Regions from separate parts of the Homo sapiens genome. Here all the other regions are linked to region 2. Evidence: fine-mapped expression QTL. A gene starts in region 2. Each other region holds a variant in brackets. All regions are shown on one strand. Distances are between the middles of the regions. Region 1 overlaps OSBPL3 (oxysterol binding protein like 3). Region 2 holds the start of OSBPL3 (oxysterol binding protein like 3). Region 3 has its middle 48 kb from the start of OSBPL3. Region 4 overlaps OSBPL3 (oxysterol binding protein like 3).

Region 1 (5,202 bases), 71 kb before region 2:
ACATTCATCTGTTGATGGACATTTAGGTTGTTTCCACATCTTGGCTATCATCAACAGTGCTTCTGTGAACACAGGAGTGCTGATACCTCTTAACTTTAAAGTGTTGCTTACTGTCTCCTTTTCTCTCCCAGTTCCATGGGCAGTCACCAAAGTTTTGTCCCTCATCCACTTCTCTCTATGCACTTCAGCTCTTGATCATCTTTACAGGCCCCTTACCTTAGTAAAGCCTCTACACTGCTCCCTACCCCCACACTCCAGTCCCCAGCCTGGTGTTGGCCCCTGGATTCATCACTGGAACAGCAAGCCTATGCTCATTACTCCCTCATGCTGATATTAATACCTGCCACTGGCTTCCCTGACTCTGATTAAGATACCCACCCTCTATTAATCCAACCAAACTCCCTCTCCCAGAGCCCCCAGTAGTGTAGATTCTCTCTCTCCCTGACACTGACCTCATCACCCCCCAATGTGTTTTATATTCTTCTATTCTCAAAACAACCTATCCATTTTAGACCACCATTAGGCCCTGCAACTGACTCCACATTTTCTCTCCCAGCACTTCAATCCTTATATCCATTCCCTAGTTCAATTTATCGCCAGGCTCTCCCCTGCTCCAAATTCCCAATGCCTACAAGCTTAAGTAAAATAGCAAGGCCTGGCAGGCAAAACCCTCCACTACATAGTTGCATTTCACTGGTTTTGGACTCTGGATCTACCTCTCACTCTGTGGCTAAATGTCTGAGTTGCTTCGTCATGTGAAAGCAGGCATGAATAACTGTACTAACCTCACAGGGTTTTGTGAAGATTGACTAAAATAATGCATGTAAAACACTCAGCATAGTCCTTGCCAGACATCACTCAGTTACACTTTGGCTGTTATCACTCAAACTTCATCTCTAACAACTCATATATACATACCCTGTATTCTGCACTCTCCCTTTCTCCTAGTGAGTCCTTCTTTATGGAGCACCCTCCTAACCCACTTTCTCTCTTCCGTCTGTGGCAAAGTCCTCCATCTTCCGAAGATCACTTTCAGCATTGCCTTTTCCATGAAGCCTTTTCTCAACCCCTCTCCCACCCCAAATGCGTTTGTTTCCTCTTGGACTCTGCTTTCCTTTTGCGCTACCTGAAAGTATTAGTCACGTTTCCTGCACTCTGACTCACTCTTCATATCCTGACTGCTAGATGTTGGGTCTATATCTCACTCGGGACTGCATTTTATTCACCTCTACATTCTGTGGAAAGTAATTTACAAAGACTGGTAGCAATCTTTGTTGAGCCAAGGAAAGAGTTCTCAGTGTGAGCACATTTATTTATTCCCATAGGAGACTTCTGTCTTTACTGTTCACTGGAATCATTTGGGATTACTTATGTATTTCAGAATATTTCAGCTATTCCTTCCTTGTGAGATCTCCTTGCCATTTTAAGTCTTTGGCCACAAGAGACATCATTTCTCTCTTTTCTCTGACTTGTTTCAAATATTTCTAGTACCATAGAGATGTTATGCCCAAAGCATCCTTCTTTGGGGATTTCATTTCCTGGTTCCTGCCACTTTCTATCACTAGTTAATGCTTCCTTGTTGGCTCAGAAAGAAACCCAGAGCTATCATTCTCTGCATTATTTTTTCAGTCTTCTTAAAAATTAAATGATCGGCAAAACAAGTCAAGAGTTTATCAGAAGTTAGCCGAATGAAACATCCAGTGGGTGATTATCTGATTGAATCTCCTTTTTATCAGCACATGTGGTATTCATTCTAAAGTTTCAGTTTCTGAGAAGAAAGCGCCCTCCATAGCCTCTATCTGGCCATCCATAATACTGATCCTATTACAATCTTTCTTCCCTACCATGCCCTCTTTACCCAGGGATTCATCATTAAGGTCTAGATTTCCCCAAGACTGCTTCTTTACAGTAAAACATCCCCTTCTAAAATCATATTCTAGTCACGAGAACCACGCTAACCGTGGTGAGACAGATCCAGTGATGCTATCTATATCCAAGTTTTAATGTTTCAAGTTTATTTTGCTTCATTCTCATAAGCTGCACAATGGCAAAGAGCTGCAGGTATTTTACCAACCAGCTGCCCAGGCTTTTTTAAAAAGAAATTACTGATGTTCTCCTCCTCTGTTATTGGTCTTTTTATCTTTGCTCTGCCGGTTGTTCTCTAGCCAATCAAGTTTTAACGTTTTTTCCTTCCCATCAAATTTCAGTTCAACTCTCTTAAACAAGTTAGCAAATCTCTTGCCAAACACACTTGTCCTCAAAAGATGGCAAGAGCCTGCTCCACAAACCAAACTCGGCTTATCAACACTATCTGTGCTGTAGTTACTTTGCGTGTCCTTTTCAAGCACATGGTCTACCTTTCCCCAAAAAGTAGAGACATCAAACATCCCCCTCAAGTTCTCTACTTTTCTACCATGACTTCACAGAACTCATGATACATTTGAGGTTTCTTTTGACATTTAGAGTGTTTTTACCCAAACCAGTGAACGGGGTGATAACTGATAGATCTGATATTTTGGTAAGTTAGCATGCATGCCTTGGCTTGTTATCCAGCAATATCCACTCTCCCCTTCTTTAATAATAGAACTCTCGAGTTTTAATGTGGTTCATGGGCATCTAATAAGAGGCTTTCACTTCTAGCATTCTTTGCCGCTTGGTAGGGGCTTGTGACTAAGGGCTGCCAATGAGATGTGAGCAGAGTTGTTTGTCTTCCAGGTCATGGTCCTAAAAAGAGATACACATGTTCCCTGCCCTTTCCCCATTCCTGAGAGCTGGGAGGTGGTGATAGCTGGACCCAGAAATGAAAGACACACTGGTTGAAGACCATAGTGTCACCATGCCAGCCAA[G/A]GAATAACAATATCTGAACAGTTACATGAGAGAGAAATAAACTTTAATCGTGTTAAAGTTACCTAATTTTTGAATCTCTCAGTTACACAGGTATAGCACAAATAACATTGGCCCTAAGAAGCTGGCATGCCTTCAAATTAGGAACCTTAGGTCACCTCTGTACGTCTTAACAGAAAGCTGCCAATCACCTCTGTCCTGGCCAGCTTCCTGTGCCAGAAACAGGAACCTATGGCAGTAAGAATCCTTTTCATTATTTGACAAAATAAGGAAAGCTACTGTTTTTTTTTTCTTTCTTTTTTTTTTTTTTTTTTTTTTTTTGGAGACAGAGTCTTGCTTTTCTCGCCCAGGCTGGAGCGCAGTGGCGTGATCTCAGCTCAGATCTCAGCTCACTGCAACCTCTGCCTCCCAGGTTCAAGCAATTCTTCTGCCTCAGTCTCATGAGTAGCTGGGATTACAGGCACACACCACCATGCCCGGCTAATTTTTGTACTTTTTAGTAGAGATGGGGTTTCGCCATGTTGGTCAGGCTGGTCTCGAACTTCTGACCTCAGGTGATCCACCTGCCTCGGCCTCCCAAAGTGCTGAGATTACAGGTGTGAGCCACCGTGGCTGGCCGAAAGCTACTATTTTCAATTTGAAGGTGTGTATTACCCTGGCCTGAAATAATCCCAAATGCTCAAAATAGGATAGATGGTAGACATCCAATCTTCAAATCATTTTCACCTTCTCCAGCAAGCCAGCCCCTTTCATGTTGCATTTATCACCCACGTGGTCCCAAGAGTCACTACAGATCAGGATGAATCAATGTTCTGAATGGAGAGAGATGAGTCCATAGGTCCTATGACAACTCCTCCATTCCTGAATGGAGAAATCAGAAATGGGCTGAGTTTTCCTCCTCCTTCTGCAGCTTAGCTACTCTTACTTGTCCTTCAACACCTTACAAGGAAGAAATACTTATGAATAAATGTGGGCTAATAAAGGAAGCTACAGTGGAAAGACAGGTGGCAAAAAGAAGACAGGCACACTGATGAAAACTCAATTCAGTATATATCCTATAAAGTAACTACTATGTGTCCACTGCTGTGCTAACCCTTCAGTGATGGAAACTAAGTGACAGAAACTTAATCCAAGGAGGAAACCACTGTGATCAAGGAGATAAGATGTCACAAATGAAACAAGCCAGAACACACCCCAGGGTGGGCCATCTGGTAGGTGCTATGGGCAGTCACAAGGGAAGAGCTCAGTGGGGCTGGAGTTGTGAGAAAAAGCTTAGGAAGAGGTGGCCTGCAGGGAGCCGTGAAGATGTGGATAGGGCTTGACTAGGTAGAGAGAAGCATGGAGGACAAAGCTGTGAGCTGGGTCGGGAGGGGCACCTCCTGCAACATTTCTCAACCCCGGCTGCGTGACAGGATCACCCTGGGAAGCTTCTACAAAATCCCAAAGCCTGGTGCCATTTCATACTAACTGGTCCAGACACTGGGGATGAGGCCAGGGCAAGGGCATCCTGAGACACTCCCAGGTGATTTGGATACACAGCAAGGGTTGAGCCACTGCTCTAACATAATCTTGCATCCAGAAATGACAGATTTACTCCACAGAACTGCCTTCTTTAATTTTGGTATTTAATTTTGTTTGAGCATCTTATGCCAGACCTATGTCTGCTGCATCCAATTTATACCAAATTGAAATGCAAAGCAGGATGTGACTTAGCAGTTTAAAGGGTAAGAAAAGATAGCACCACCCAAGAACTTAAAATAACATCTGGTGGTTTGAATTTTATCAGTGGGTGTTATTACGCTCCCTTAACCGACAACTGCTTGCGGAAGCTTGGTAGAGTTTTAACAATTGGCAACCACAGGCAGCATTTCATTACTTATCTAAAAAGACTATCAATTGAGTTACTATGAAATGTGAGCATGAAGTTTTAAAACTTCCCTATTTCCTACAAAAATCAACTTATCATCTTTTCAGAAATGTAAACAGCCAGCTAACAATGGGTAATGCTCTATAAGTGCTAACTGAACACTCTCAAATAACAAGAAACAAAATACCCTAGTGGGTCATGTATCAGATGTACACACTTCAAGTTTGTTTGTCCACTTAACTAAAAATAACCCTGGGACTCAGAATCTAAGCTTAAACCAAATTCTATAAATCGAAGTCCCCAAGATATATTTTGGAGGTATCCTTCCAAAACTGCAGGGGCGATAATAATTCCTTGTAAGAGAATCACTAATTTAGGGAACATAGGTGGGGAGAAAAAGGGATACAGGAAGTTTTACTCACTTCTAGGGGAAAGAAAGATTACTGCAAAAAACTTAACCTGAGACACTTTTAAACTAGTGCAAACTGGAA
Region 2 (5,202 bases):
CTTTCCTTCTGTATTAAAAGTCCCCAGTCTATCAGGCCCACAAACCATAAACCCAAGCACAAAAATCAATGGCAGTAAGAGTCTCAGGGATTCTGAAAACAGTACATCTAGACACTTGATATCAGCACCAGAAAGTTTACAGCCCAATCTCAGATGGTTTTAATATTTGTATCACTGGATTCTATCATGAGTTAACATCTAATTAGTGGGGCGAGAATTGAAGTCAGACTATTAAAAAATCTAGCTCAGCAATTTACTGGTGACCTTAGGCAAGTTCCTAAACCTCGTTTTCCAATTCTTCACCTGAAAAATGGAGATAACCTCACAACAATGCCCAGCAAGACGGTGAAAATTAAGCTTACGGGCAGGGCGCGGTGGCTCACGCCTGTAATCCCAGCACTTTGGGAGGCCGAGGTGGGCAGATCACAAGGTCAGGAGATCGAGACCACCCTGGCTAACACGGTGAAACCCCGTCTCTACTAAAAATACAAAAAATTAGCCGGTCGTGGTGACGGGCGCCTGTAGTCCCAGCCACCCGGGAGGCTGAGGCAGGAGAATGGCATGAACCCGGGAGGCGGAGTTTGCAGTGAGCCGAGATCGCGCCACTGTACTCCAGCCTGGGCGACAGCGTGAGACTACGTCTCAAAAAAAGAAAAGAAAAAAGAAAATTACAGCTTACTGCAGCCTGGGAGTATCTGGCTTATGATGTAACTATTAACGATTACTGAAAATATATCTCAATAATAAAACAGTAAATCTTTTGGCTAAGCCATAGCTTTTGATACAAATAAAGCTAAATGCCTATTAACTAATGGTGGAAACCACATTTTAGTTTATTCGAAGAGGTCAAGCACAATAGAGACAAAATGGGCTGGAATCCTAGTTCTGCCAGGATAACCTTGGCAACACAGGTTAACCTGCTGGACCCTCAATTTCCCATCTGGTTAAAAATACCTAGCTAACAGACTTCTGTAAGTTTAATGCGGTAATGTACAAAAGTTCCTAGTATTGCTATTTGTTAATTTTCCCAACAGTAAAAAAAGGATAAAGATGAAAATCAAAATCAGCTATGAAATCCTCATTCCTCATATTTACAGAGAAGGTTTCATTTATTCATTCTATAAATGTTTACTGCAAACCTACTGCGTGTTCTTGACACAGGGGATCAAGTGATGAACAAGACAGACAAGGTCTCTGCATTCCTGGTACTTACATCCTAATGAGGGAAGGCAGATAACCCAATAACCCAAAGAGACAATTTCAGAGAGAAATTTAAGTGCTATGAGCAACAGCAAACGGGTGATGTGGCTTGGCTGGAGGGGATGGTCATTTAGCTTGGATGCATAAGAACCTAGGCCTGCTTGACTGATCTCCTTTAGCCAAGTATAGTCCTTTAGCCAAGGACCTCACCTTGTATGATACTTGCGGGGTACAGTGCAGATGATGAGAAGCCAGGCCTTCGCTTTCACCCATCTGTGGAAGTATCTCTTTTGCAGCTGTAGTTTAAAATATTTCTAAATGCCCTCATCCCAATACTCAAACTCTGAGGGTCAGAGCAACACCTAGGGGGTCTCAAGCACCTCTGCGCAGTACGCAGACACATGGAAACCGACAACTTCACAGTCCCCTCAGCTCCAAGAGTCCCGACTGAGGAGACTGGTGGCTTGTGAGGCGGAGAAGGACAAGCACAAGTGTGCAGAAGGCAGCAAGCAAGTTGCGTTGCCGAAGGAAGGGCGGCGCGCCCCTGCTTAAGAAGTATCTGGACGACCTGCGACAGTGCCCATCAGCGACTCCAGAGGCCACAAACGCTCCCCGGGAAGCTGGGCAGCGCTAAGAGGCTGCCTGGGAGTTTCTGGCTTATGATGACAGTACTTAAAGAATTTACCTGACCACGGAATAAACAGAGACAGAGGTAGGAAAACCCAACTGTAGACAACGTTCAGACAGAGTGCATAAGTCCCTAAGACCCTGAACTAAGACGCTGCAGGGCCTCCAGGAAAGGACCAATGTGAGAGACACTGAGACGAGAGTTAGGGTGAGCCTGAAGGTGATCTGAACAGTAGTAATTGGAAACTAACAAAAAAAAAAAATTCCAGAAGGGGCCAGAAAGCTGATGAATATGTAAATTCAGACAAGAAAGGAATGTGCCCTGGGCCTCCAGCCCAGCACCGGGGAGCTGAGCAAGCCGGGGTTGGGAAGGCGGGCGAGCGGAGCGCCTGCCCCGCGAGCGTTGTCTCAGTCTCTCCGGCGCGCCCCATCCCGCGGATGTGGTAAAGCTTCGCGCTCGCCCCAATTTACCAGGCTTCCTGAGCCTCTAGCCCCGGCGTAGCGCCTCCCCGCTGCCCAGGACAGCTCCGCGCGCCGCGTCCTCCCGCACCTGCGCCGCGGCCCCTGCGCTCGGCTCCTCCTGGCGGTCAATCCTCTGAGCCGTCCCTCGAGGGAAGGTGTCCTGGGGTGGGTGAGACCCGGGTCCTCCTTCCCCGGGAGCTGCAGCCGGCACCCAAGCTCCCAGGCTTGGGTCTGCCCCAGGGCCGGAGCCTCCCCGGGCGACTCGGACAGACCCCGGTCCGGCAGAGAACCGCGGCGCCCCGCAAACAGCAGCCCTTCCGAGCCCGCGCCGCCGCCAGGCCCCCCGACACCCAGGCCCCATTTAGGCGGGCGCCCCGCCACTCACCTGAGCGCTGTGCAGCCGGAGACGCTCCCTAGTTCCCCGGGGCCGGGCTCCGGGGTTAGCGCACAGAACCGGGAGAAGGCAACCCCGGCTTCTCCGGTACCCCCGCAACGTGCAGCTGACAGCTCCCGCACCGGCCGCAGGAGTCGGGGGCGGGGATGGCCACTTGCAGACAGACTGCGGGGCCGGAGCCGCGCTGCGCACCGGCCGCGAAGCGCTCAAGTCCCCTCTCCCGGGCCGGCTGGCGGGCGCCACCAGCACGCGGCCAGTTCTGAGTACTTTGCCCAGAACTTCTCGGCGCGCGCCGCCCGGCGATTAGCCCGAGGAGCCGCGCAAGGGCGGGAGCGCAGGGGAGGGGCCTGAGAGGCCCAGGGGCGGGGCCCCGAGGGGGCGGGAGGGCGGCAGAGTGATGCACAATCTCACCAATCAGAAGTCGCCTTTCGGGAAGGAGGTGGGGCGATGTCCTCGGAAGAAGCCAGCGGATTCCATGACGCGGCGGGGGAACTAGGGACCCCGGATTCCGGATGGGTTGGGAGGGCGGAGGGAGGCGAGTCCTGCGGCGAGGCACTGGGTGGGGCTCCCGGTGGCCCAGCTCGGTGCCTGCGCGCGGTAGGCGTTCGGTAAATGTTCCTCTAGTGGCTTTTCCGGGCCAGGGAAGGAGGAAAAAGTGAGGGCAGCGCGGGAGGGGCAGGTTTACGGAGAAGGCTCCAGGGGACCCTTGCGGTCGCACAGGCTAGGAGAACTCGACCTCCCGAGAAAGTCAGACTGTGGCAGAGGAGTCGAGAACAGAGGAAATACATAGGGAGGCAGCACTCTAGGCACGAGATGACAAAGGACAGCATCAGTGTGAGACCCGGGGCTCGGAGACCGTGACCCTACCTCCAGAGGCAGTCGTGCAGATTCGTGCCGGGGTGATTTTGTTCTGTGCAGTTTATGTGCAAGGGGGTAGGAGGTGGGGAGAGCACCGTCGTTACTATTAAATCTCCCTGAAAGACGGAAAAGTCCACCCGACTTGACTTCCCACTAGCCCAATGGCCTTCTTTGATCCTAGGACGAATGCAAGCAGCTGATGGTTTGGGGTCAGTTTGCAGACTGCAAATGTGTCGAGTGCCGCAGGTGGCGGGTGGGAAGGGCATGAGCATTTAGTGAGCACCTAGTATATGCCAGGAGCAGTTGCGAGCTTGCAACTGTGAGAAAGGCGCACCAGGCTCCAGTACTCACGGGGCTTGCATTTTTTGTGGAAAGACAGACAATAAAGAAGAGAAAATACATATCTATGCAAAAAATAAAAGGCTGACAGACTGTTAGTACTGAGAGGAGGGCCAAGTCCACTTTCGAAAGTGGTTTAGCGCGTGATGGGGCGCTCACCCTGAGGGCCTCTAGGCGAGGGTGGCTTTTACCCAGATTCCTGAGCCTGGGAAAGGAGCTGCCACACCCAGTCTCGCACAGAGCGTTCCAGGCGAAGGGAATAGCAAATACAGGGTATTTAGCCTCCCTGAAGACCCAACTAACCGACCTCACCGAGCTGGGCACCGCGCGTGGCTCGCTGGGCTCAGCGCCTGGGACGGAGTAAGGGCTCCACAGTGTTAAATCCCCCTGCCAACCACCACCTGCAGCGCTCGACGCATTTTCAGTCTCCAAACTGACCCCAATTCAAGGTTTCTGAGACTCTTTCCGGAGCTATTCTGTTCACATTTCATTCACCACGCTCAGATCTTCGCTTTCTGGAACCATCCCCCTCGCGAAATGTCTGGGACTGTCTGTTTCGGATCTGGCAGGCGGCGGGCGAGGGCGGGAGGCGCCAGAGATGCTGCCGAGCAAATCCACTGTCATGCTGCCCACGTCGGCACACGGAGAAGCTTATTGGAGAAGATTTCAAATCGAATGACTCCGCGGTTCCTAAACCACCTCGCAAAGCCCGACCAGCGCCAGGTGGCTGGACGGGTAGTGGAAGGACGCGTCTGGCAGGCGCGCGGACCGTCCAAGGAGGCACCTTGCCCACGCCCAGCCCCGCCGTCGGAGCAGCTTAGACTGGGTTTTCCCAAACCTCCTTCCGTCTTTCTGTAATTTCTCTCTGAGAGAGGCTTGCTCTGTCCTCCTCCTGCCAGTCCCTTTCCTCGTTCAAGCTATTTTCTTTCTTTTTCTTTTGCTCTCCACCTTCAGCCTCTCCGCCTGTTTCTTTAGCATTGGTTTTTCTGTAGGAGACAAGCCTTCAATCCGAAAGGAAGTGATTTGCATAGGGCTTTGTTGTTTAGCATCCCGTTCCGAGCTTTTTCATTAATGTCTTCCTAATCAAATAATAATAGAGTGTACATTCTCTCTCTCTCTCTCTCTCTCTGTGTGTGTGTGTGTGTGTGTGTGTGTGTGTGTGTGTGTGTGTGTACTTGAGGCAGTTAATTGGACAGGATGAGAGAATTATTCACATTGTGCCTTGTCTCCAAGTAAAGGAGGAATCGTACTGTGGCTTTTCATAGTTTCATTTCCTCTTCTACTCCTAAATAAACTTCCAGGCTCTCCAGCTCCTAAAATCA
Region 3 (5,202 bases), 49 kb after region 2:
GGGGCTGGACAGGGGAACGGCTGGCATTTGGGCTAAATGGGCCAACTCAGATGTTATAGGAGGTACCTCTTGGCAGAGGAACAGATAAAGCTGGACAGTAGAGAGAAAAGAAGAAATATGCCATTAAGAGAGAAATAAAGGTGAGAGAAAGAGTGAAAGTCTTGCTTTGTGGGTGGTGGTGATGTCTTGTTAGCCACTAGTTCTGGTTCTAGTTCTGTCCTGAGGACTAGATGGTCTCCTGCCCTTGCTTTCTGGGAGGCATTCTTGTATACTTATTATACATTCTCTTTTTTAGTTAACCTAGCTCAAAATTGGGTTCTGTTAATAGCTATCAAAAACCTTAATAATTACAAGAAATCCATAGCACCTAGAATTTAAGTAAATCGAGCCAAGTCCTGTGGCTACTTAGCAGTAGGAGCTGGGTTCAGACCCATCTCCTAGCGCTCTCTCCATCACACTCTGAGTGGCCACCCTGGCTGCCTCATTGTTTTGCAAATACACCGACCTCAGGAGCTCATGCTGATCCTATTAGAGTTTGCTCCTCCTGTCACAAACAGCCCTAGAGGCCACTTCCTCACCTCATTTAGGTCTCAATTCTAATGTCACTCAGAGATACCTACCCTGACAACCTCATCTAAAATAGTCTCTAAATTCTTTCTTGTATACTTACTATAAATATTAAGTTTCTAGGCTTTACATATTTATTTATTTTTACTAAAACTTATTGCTACTAGAATTTATATTGCATGTTTATTTGTATACTTTTTTATCTACCTCCCCCCGTCCCCACCAGAATATAAGCTCTTTGAGGTCTGGGATCACCTTTCTTATCCATTGCTGTATTTTCAGTGCACTGACTAGAACTGCACCTGGCATATGGAAGATATCCATAAGTGTTTGTTTCATCAGTTCATTAAGCCTAGATCAATGCCATTTTCATGGCCTTATAATATTTGATCACAAACCTAGGAACACTCAGAAAAATCCTACTGGAGTAATCTCAGCAGTCTGGGAGGCTGAGGTGGGTGGATCACTTGAGGCCAGGAGTTCGAGACCAGCCTGGCCAACATGAGGAAACCCTGTCTCTATTAAAAATACAAAAATTAGCTGGGCATGGTGGCACACACCTGTAGTCCCAGCTACTTGGGAGGCTGAAGCATGAGAATTGCCTGAACCTGGGAGGCGGAGGTTGCAATGAGCCAAGATGGTGCCACTGCACTCTAGCCTGGGTGCCAGAGCGAGACTCTGTCTCAAGGGAAAAAAAAAGGAATGAAAACAACCTCTGAAGAATGTCCGTGAAACTTAGTTTCTCATCCTGCAGAGAAGATAGATGTCTGCTGGCTATTCTTCTGGACTGAAAGGATGTAGACAGTTGAGGCAATGTGCTCTGATCCAGCATTTATCAGAACAAAACAAAATACGTGTACATTCATTTCTAGTTGTTCTTTCACAGTTTTTCTGGCCTGGGAAAACAAAGCTTCAGTGACAGTCAAAACGCTTTTGTTCCTATGATATCACACTTTAAATTGCAAATGGTATCTACCTTGTTCTTGGCTTCATGTTATTTTCTGGGTCTGTTTTAAAAGATTGTTCACTGTGTTCATGCTCACTGTGTCCAGTCGGCCTGAGATGGTCTGGCTTGCTGAGAGTAGCCTGTCCCCACAGCTGTATGGGAGGAGAGCTGCTAGGACCTCAAAATGTCCAAATAGTGGCACTCACAGGAAGTCAGGAAGGGCGAGCTGAGGGAGGAAGCAGAGGAAATGGGATGTGCTCCCATCTGAGCCTGACTAGGATCTCTCAGTTTATAATTTTGAAACCCGACTATCAAACAGAGGGTTACTTTAGCTGTGGCTTTCAGACCCTGGTCCCCGTGTAGCCATGTCAATGGTAGCCCCTGACTAGCTACCCTGACACGCCTGCTATTTCATCCGTTGCTTTTAACAATGGGCTAATGAAAGGATGCAAGTAGCCGGAGAGTTAGCACCAGTCCATAACCAACACTGAAAAAATGGAACTGAAGAATTTAATAATAATATTAATTTGTGCTTGTATGTTACTCTTTCATGTTAACTTCTTCACTTTCATAGCACTTAATTTTAATCGATAAGAAACTCACTGTGATTTGGTGGCTGAGTGTGGTTGTTCAGCTAGTGAGTAGTAAGGTCTGGACTCAAACTCAGATCTCTTGACTGCAAGATCAGGGCTCTTTCCACCGCAGCTGCCTCCCTATGTCTGCATTCAAAGAATGGCTTGCTATACAATTTATTTTCGTGATTATGTTACATTGCCAAATAAGCACGGTCTTTTAGAGTCACAAATTCAGAGAAAGCTAAAGATAAATCAGCAGCCTGAAAAAGACAGTTGATAGTCTTTATTTGGTAAATCACAACACGAAGCCAGACCTTGACCCAAATTTGATGGTAGCCTTGTTTCTAATGAGGGCCCTGTCTGATGCAAGTGAAAAATGCAGTAACTCAGATTTATAGGCAGCCATCTCCATGCCTGGGGAGGCAGTGCCTGGAGCCTTCTCATCTGGCTTGCTGAGTCAAAGTCACTAAGTCTTTCTGCTCCAGAAACCACAAAAGTCACTTTGTTCTTTGACTTAGTCCTGCCAAAATTCAAAACTTGGTGAAATCGTTGAAATGGCCAGCCAGATGCCATTCCTTCACCAGACTCCCGATAGAAAATGACGTCGTGAAAAAATGACGTCGTGAGTTCAGCAACTCCCTAGCTAATTCCTGAGATTTCAAAGGCATTAGTAATTAATTCCACTTCTCCCTTCCTTCCACTAGCCACTCATGTCAAATAAGGGGAGTCAATGTTTGCTTGAATTACGCAGATAATTGCTTATTCTTTCCACTTGCCTAGGC[G/A]TGTTCTGAAAGCCTAGATAACAATTACCACAGGAAGTGGTGACTTTCCATCTCACCTCTTTGCTTTGTTTATCATTTTAAAAAATGAACTGTGATCAGACAGATATTCCAATGCCCAGGGGCTGAGATGTGTAAACAGAGAAGATGGTAGAAGGGAAGGGCCCTGAGCTTGCTCAGAAAGTTACAGGTGGAAGAAAGGCCTTGGGGAGAGTAAGAAAGCATAAAGACATCTCTTTAACCTTCCTTTTAAAGTCTTAAAGTTTGTGATGCAGCAATTAAACTTCTGAGAATTTACCTTTATGTCAGTCAGGGTCTAACCTGGAAAAGAGAAAGCTCTCTGAGTGTTCAGAGCAGAGATCAATGCAGGGAAGTGGTTGCTAGGGTAAGGGGTGCACCCCAGAGCTGAGCACCACCAAGAAGCCCTCTAGCTGCTGGGCTGAGGGGACCTGGGTGACAGGTGGTGTCATCAGAGCTGGGACCTTGATGGGCCTGCCTGGCAGTGGTGAGACCAGTGGGGAGAGACATGGCTGCTGGAGCCTGAGCTTCTCCCCGCCCCCCTAGCCAGTCTCCCATTGCACAAACCCAGCTGGAAACCAAGGGACTCAGGGCCCTGAAAAGCCCAGCCTGCATGGGGTCACACAGCCCTGTGACATAAGGCAGAACTGGGGGAGGGCAAGAAATGGATCCAAGAGCTCACCGGCCCAAGGAAGCAACCTAAAAAGAAATCATCAATAAGTAAATGTTTGTGAATGGATAGAAAAAGTCACAGATTCTTGTACCTAAAGACTAAGTTTGGATTTAAGATAAGTGAGATAACGAGAAATCATTCCAGAAAAAGAAGTCCTGGAAAATATATCAGGCGAAGGATAGGTGGAATAAAAGCTAGAGTTAGGAGAAGTAAAAATAGACTATGTACTTGTTAAATGATAAGACGGAGAGAAACAACCCGAGTCAAAGTAGATAAAACATGCCACGACAAACTGCAAATTACAGCTCAAGTTCTCACAAATGAGTTGGACCTCATTTATAAGGGGAGAGTGTCAAAATAATTCCCTGTGAGATGTGACATGGGACGAAGCAGTGACAAAGAATCACAGAAGACAAACCTTTATCTTGAGGTCTTACCACACACTCAGGCACAAATTCGGTGTGCTGAGAGGCTGGAGTCCATGTCCTGATAGGTGATGGGGAATAAAGGATGAAATTGACAAAGAAACAGTGACACGAGGTCACAGTAAAGCTGTGGTATAGGCCTTTGAGGGCATGAACAGAATAAGATCAAAAAGCAACAGGAAACTTGAAGAGAGGATTCCCAAAGGAAAACCCAATTTTTATTTTGCCAAGAAAAGCCTAAACAAACAAAAGCTATATATCGCTGAAGAAATAGGAGAACAACAACAAAAAAAAAAATCCCAGAATAAAGCCAGGTCTTTACGTTGAATTCATTTAGATAAAATAAAACTCATTACATTGTCCTATTTTTCTCTATGTGTTACAAAGTGGTATTCGGTAAGCACTGGATTTTATGACCCCTGAATTTCTTCCTAGTCCTAAGATTCTACGATCTTGGCCTGTTTCGTTAAAGCGGTTGTGGTTCTGTGTCGGGCATTAGGTGAAGAGACTATTAGGGTTAAGAGCAGATTTTAATTTAATTGATATCCAACCAGATGATCGACTTGTCACCAATCGCCACTGAAGAACTGTATTGATAATGGGAAAATTAATCTCCTTAACAGTAGGAAGGAGGAAATGTGTTGGCCACACTCTCATCCCCAATGACCCTTCACCATGTTTGTACCAGATGAAATTGACTTTCTTTGGCTGAAGCTCTTTGGACACACTTAGCATCTAACCCAAGAGCAAACAATCTCTAAATTGGTCCGAAATTTAGGGAGTGGCCTGGTGCAAGAAATACCATCCATACAGAGACGAGGGAGCTAAACAGACTCTAGCTCCTTTTGAGAATTTGACTGTGAGATATGTGTAGAAAGAATTTAATTCCTCATTGTGTTAATGGTGGGGCAATTGTCAAGCTGGAGACTTCCTGATACCAAAAGATTTAGCAGCTCTCCTTTAGTGGCCCAGTTCAGCAGTGTAGCTCCGTGAGTGGTTCCTGAAAGCTTCATCTTGAGTCTTTCTTTTCCCCTCCCAATGACGCTACAAGCCATTTAATATCCATTCCTGCTTAAACCGGTTAGAGTGGATTCTGTTCTCTGAAACTTACCAAATGTAATTCCTGCATTAAAGGTATTACAGCCTTTTGGGGAGATAGACATGTGAACAAATCTATGAGGGTAATGCACTTTCAGGTACATAGCCGGTGCACTGGGAG
Region 4 (5,000 bases), 120 kb before region 2:
CTGAGAGCTGTCTTTATTCTCTGAGGCCCCCAAATTACAATCTGTGCAAGAGACTCCCTGAACCAGGAAAAGGAAGATCTTTCCCTCTCTGCAAGTGTACTGTAAAACCACAGGAATGAAACACCTTGTTAGGCTCCCTGTGGAATTTGTTGTCTGTAAGCCCACAGGGCTCAGGCAACTGTTGAATAAGTGCATTGGACCTTTCTCCAGGACAAACCTTGGCCCAGTCTAGGTATGTGGCAGCTCTGCAGCCAGCAGGTTTTCACAAAGTGGGAAAGACAGAACTGCTGGATGGGGCCCATTACAGACTTTCAACAAGGTGGAGACCTCTGCAGGAGGACTGGATCAATGGATCCACTCAGTATGGCAACCTTTGTCCTGCTGAGGAGGCAGCTTCTTCAATGGAGGTGAAACTCAGGACATTTCCTCTGTGTAGGGAGGCATTATCTTCTCATTGTTTAAAAGTTTGTATTATTAAAAAGTAACAATGTTTTATAGGAATTTCCTCCCACAAAACTTAAGATGCCCTAATTGCAACTGATTATTTTAATTCTTCAAATTCTTTGAAGATCCTTTAAGGGTGGGCCAGGTAACTCTTGCCATTTCACGGATGAACTGCACAACAAAACACTCATAACAGTCTAATGGTAATTAGGACAAGCATTCCAGGTAGCAATCTGTATAAAGGATGAAATGGTTTCCTTATAACCCACCTCATATCCAACATGTTTTAAATTTAGAGGGTAAGGGAAGAGAGAGCTGAAGGAATCAGTAATGTACGAAACAAAAATACGAAGTAGGAAAGGAAGGCAATAGAGGGAATATCTTCTCTCTTCCCATATTACACACTGCCCTCCCACTGAAAAATTTTAAATCCATTTTCTCTTTAAGAAATAATATATGAAAATTGAAAAAAAAGTTAAGCAGAAAGATAAATAAGCACTTAGAACTCCAGCCTCCATCACTTAAATGTTTGTATATATCCTTCCAGACTTTTTAGTATACCTATATATGCCCGAAATAGGATCATACCTATATATTGTTTTGTAACCTTACATTTTTACTTTACATTTTATGCTGAGGACATCTTTCTACAACTATAAAAAATAACGCTGGCCACTCCATCTGTAAGAGCAGAGAAATACCAGGTAAGGATTATGGACTCTGGGGTCAAACAGGTGAGAATTCAAGTCTCATGCTGGCTGCTTTGTAACCATGTGACCCTCAGGAAGCTGTTATTTTATCTAAGTCTCAAGTTTCTTATTTATGCAATAGAGATCATAATGATACCTACTTCGCAGGCTGCAGCTAGAATTAAAATAATGCACGTAAAGTAATTAGCAAATACCTGACGTGACAGTTATGTGCTCGATGTTAAGTAGCTCTCATTATTATTATTAGTGAGTATTCTATTATATTACGTTTTTGAAAAAATTCAATCCCCTATTGTTTGGCATTTAGATTATTTCTATTTTTTTAACCTTTTATTTTGAAATCATTATTGACTTACAGGTAATTGCAAAATAGTAAAGTCCCACATACCCTATACCCAGTTTCTCCCAGTAGTTACATCTTACACATCTATGGTACAATATAAAAACGTGGGAGTTGACATTAGTATAATCTACAGATTTTATTCAGATTTCACCAGATTTACATTCACTGATCTGTTTGTATGTGTGTGGGTATAAGTAAATGCAATTTTATCACATGTCCACATTCCTGTAACCAGCACCACAATCAGGATACAGAATTTTTCATCACTACAAGATCCCTTGTGCTACCCCTTTATAATCACACTCCCCTTTACTTCCTCCATCTCCATAATTATATCATTTCAAAACATTTATGTAAGTGGAACCCTACAGATATGGTTTGGCTGTGTCCCCACCCAAATCTTATCTTGAATTATAGCTCCCATAATTCCCATGTGTTATGGGAGGGACTCAGTGAAGGATAATTGAATCACGGGGGTGGCTTCCCAAATACTGTTCTTGTGGTAGTAAATAAGTCTCATGAGATCTGATGGTTTTATAAGGGGTTTCCCTTTTCACTTAGCTTTAATTCTCTCTTGCCTGCCACCATGTAAGACATGCTTTT[C/T]GTCATCTGCCATGATTGTGAGGCCTCCCCAGCCACATGGAACTGTGAGTCCATTAAACCTCTTTTTCTTTATAAATTACCCAGTTTCGGGTATGTCTTTATCAGCAGCATGAAAATGGAGTAATACACCTATACTATGTAATGTTTTGAGATTGGTTATTTTCTGTCAGCATAACGTCCCTGAGATCCATCCAAGTTGCTATGTATATCAATAGTTTGTTCCTTGGTATTGCTGAGGAGTATTCCATTGTATGGATGTACCACAGTTTGTTTAACCATTCATCTGTTGAAAACCACTTGAGTTTGTTTCCAGTCTTTGGCCAATACAAATAAACTTGCTTTGAACATGGGTATAGATTTGTGTGTGGACATAAATTTTCATTTATCTGGAACAAATGCTCAGAAATGAGTGTTGGGTTGCATGGTAAATGCATGTTTAATTTTATACAACACTGCCAAACTGTTTTCCAGAGTGGCTACACCATTTTACATAGCTACAAGCAATGTATGACAGATTAAATTTATATGCATTTTCACCAGCATTTGATACTATATTTCCTTTTAACTTTGGCTCTTCTAATAGGTGTGTAGTGATATCTCATCATGGCTTTAATCTGCATTTTCCTAATGGCTAATGATGTTGAATACCTATTTCTAATTTTTGATGTGACAATGCAAAATGGATACTTTGTTTGGATAAATTCTAAGTTAATTCCTACAATGAATTCTTCAAAGTGGAATTGCTAGATAGGCAGATTTTAAAAATAGTGAGAAAATAATATCATATTGCCCTCCAGAAAATTACCAATTTACACTCCCACCAACATCACATGAATTGCTCAGCTTTTAAAGTACTAACTCTCTCTCATTGTCTCCCCCACAAGGTTAAAAAGAAAGTTCTTGCCAATACATTCTCCACTACTAGGGAAATAAAATAAAGATTAGGTTTCCCTAAATCTTAATAGAGCAGAAAATGAACCAACTAAGATACTCTCTCTAAGGACATCTCACATTCAGACATGCACTTAACATTTTCATCAAACACATTAGGAAGAAAGAAAACTCATTTACCTTTATGGGCAATATGACACAGATCTTCTTGCATTTTAGAAAACTCTGATGAGGTTTCAGAGCCATCAGAATAATTTTTCTCTTCTCCAAAATCTAGTGTTGACAAATTAGGATTGGAGGAGTGTAGTCTTACTGGGCCAGAAAAAGGTTTCGGGACCTGAAGTAACACCAAAGGGAGATATTTCTTTTCAGATGCAGATTGCTTAGAATATTTACTTGATTCTAAGATTGAAACATGGTAATACAAATACAAAACATTTTATAGGTAGGTCTTTTTTTTTTTTTTTTGGGGGGGATGGAGTCTCGCTCTGCCACCCAGGCTGGAGTGCAGTGGCACAATCTCCGCTCACTGCAAGCTCCACCTCCCGAGTTCACAGCATTCTCCTGCCTCAGCCTCCCAAGTAGCTGGGACTACAGGCGCCCGCCACCACGCCCGGCTAATTTTTTGTATTTTTAGTAGAGACGGGGTTTCACCGTGTTAGCCAGGATGGTCTCGATCTCCTGACCTTGTGTTCTGCCCGCCTCAGCCTTCCAAAGTGCTGGGATTACAGGCGTGAGCCACCGCGCCCAGCCTAGGTAGGTCTTTCTACTGAGTGATAACTTATTTTAAAAAATGAGAACTCAAGACAACACTTTCCACAGAAACTTGCTTCTTGTGAGCTAAAAATGGGTGAGAAATCACATATTCTTTTGGAAATGATAGAAGCATTAAAGCTATAGGTTGAAAATGACAGCTAAAGCTGCCAGGCTTTCTCATTTATACTCAATTCCTTCCTCCTGGCAATAATCATCCATGTATCCAGGCGGTTAGTAATGGATAGGTTTAAAATGCTTTTCTTTGCACCTAGGGCTTCTACAAAACAAATGACCTTCATTTGTACATGGAACATTCTTTACTTCCAAAGTGCTTATCTTCAGTCCATAAACTACTTTGAACCAAAGAGTGTACACAAGTGTATCAGGTGACCTAACCAAAAGCTTGAGATTTATGTTGATTCTAAAACTGTTGCAATTAATATGCAACAGTTAAGCTGCAAATCTTGGCCTGTGGCTTAGCTGTGCATTGGGAAAGCTCCTAGCATGACACAGTGAATCCTGGATGAGGGATTGGGAGTTTGGAGATAAGAGGCCAAGGAGAATCTACACCATGTCCTGTGCCCAGAGAATCAGGCCTGTGGGCTTAGAGGGATGACAAATCCATGGAGCATCAGCGGAAGACACAGGTCACAGCACACAGCAACTGCAGCCACAAAACAAGGCACAAACACAAGCAGGGAAGAGCACAGGCAGGCTCAACAGTGAAGGTGGGGAAACCAAAAGCCCTAGAAATGGCAGCAGTCCCTGCGACCTCACACCCTTTTTCCCTTAGAAAAAATTCTCTCCCTTGCCCACGATCCATTATGTGCTTATCCTAGCACCCAGATAATCTAAGTGATTCAATTCATCTCGCTACAGAGGACACTGGAAAGAACAACTACAGAATATTCACTCATCTATTCTCCTAGCTGAGTCAAGGTAGCTGCTGGCACACGGCATGCAGAGCAGGGCCAATGAAGAAACCAGTCTGTCAGGGGAAGCAATGGTTACCTGCAGTGTTCCTTTAGCATCTTTGCCAATAGCTCTGGACCGCCACCTCCTGTGCGATCTTTTTTCCTTTTTGGGACTTTCAAAAGATCCACCCTTTGTTTCAAAACAGGAAAGAGAGCACAGACAGTAAAGTCCACCAAACCGACAAGGATAAATGCATAGCAAAGTGACCACCTCCATCCCCTTGACTTTGGCTGAAGCAACTGACCACAGCATCCCACTGTTAGTGAAAGGCTGGGAGG

Evidence for each region.
Region 1: its variant is fine-mapped to the expression of OSBPL3 in whole blood (TOPMed, PIP above 0.99). The same link has a PIP of 0.9 or more in blood mononuclear cells.
Region 3: its variant is fine-mapped to the expression of OSBPL3 in whole blood (TOPMed, PIP above 0.99). The same link has a PIP of 0.9 or more in blood mononuclear cells.
Region 4: its variant is fine-mapped to the expression of OSBPL3 in lung (GTEx, PIP 0.93).

Annotation. Positions count from the first base shown.
Region 1 is chr7:24,906,644-24,911,845 of GRCh38, forward strand. The region is part of intron 1 of OSBPL3 (oxysterol binding protein like 3); the gene reads right to left. Among named protein-coding and RNA genes, the nearest start is that of OSBPL3, 71 kb to the right of the region's middle. RefSeq lists an enhancer at 4,037-4,186. The variant G/A (reference allele first, on the strand shown) is at 2,848.
Region 2 is chr7:24,977,212-24,982,413 of GRCh38, forward strand. OSBPL3 (oxysterol binding protein like 3) reads right to left here and starts at 2,967. Exons shown (of 23, transcript NM_015550.4): 1 at 2,675-2,967. RefSeq lists silencers at 2,357-2,566, 2,617-3,126 and an enhancer at 4,267-4,436.
Region 3 is chr7:25,025,909-25,031,110 of GRCh38, forward strand. No RefSeq gene overlaps it. Among named protein-coding and RNA genes, the nearest start is that of OSBPL3, 48 kb to the left of the region's middle. RefSeq lists an enhancer at 2,910-3,411. The variant G/A (reference allele first, on the strand shown) is at 2,871.
Region 4 is chr7:24,858,442-24,863,441 of GRCh38, forward strand. OSBPL3 (oxysterol binding protein like 3) reads right to left here. Exons shown (of 23, transcript NM_015550.4): 9 at 4,759-4,851; 10 at 3,172-3,328. Among named protein-coding and RNA genes, the nearest start is that of GSDME, 100 kb to the left of the region's middle. The variant C/T (reference allele first, on the strand shown) is at 2,101.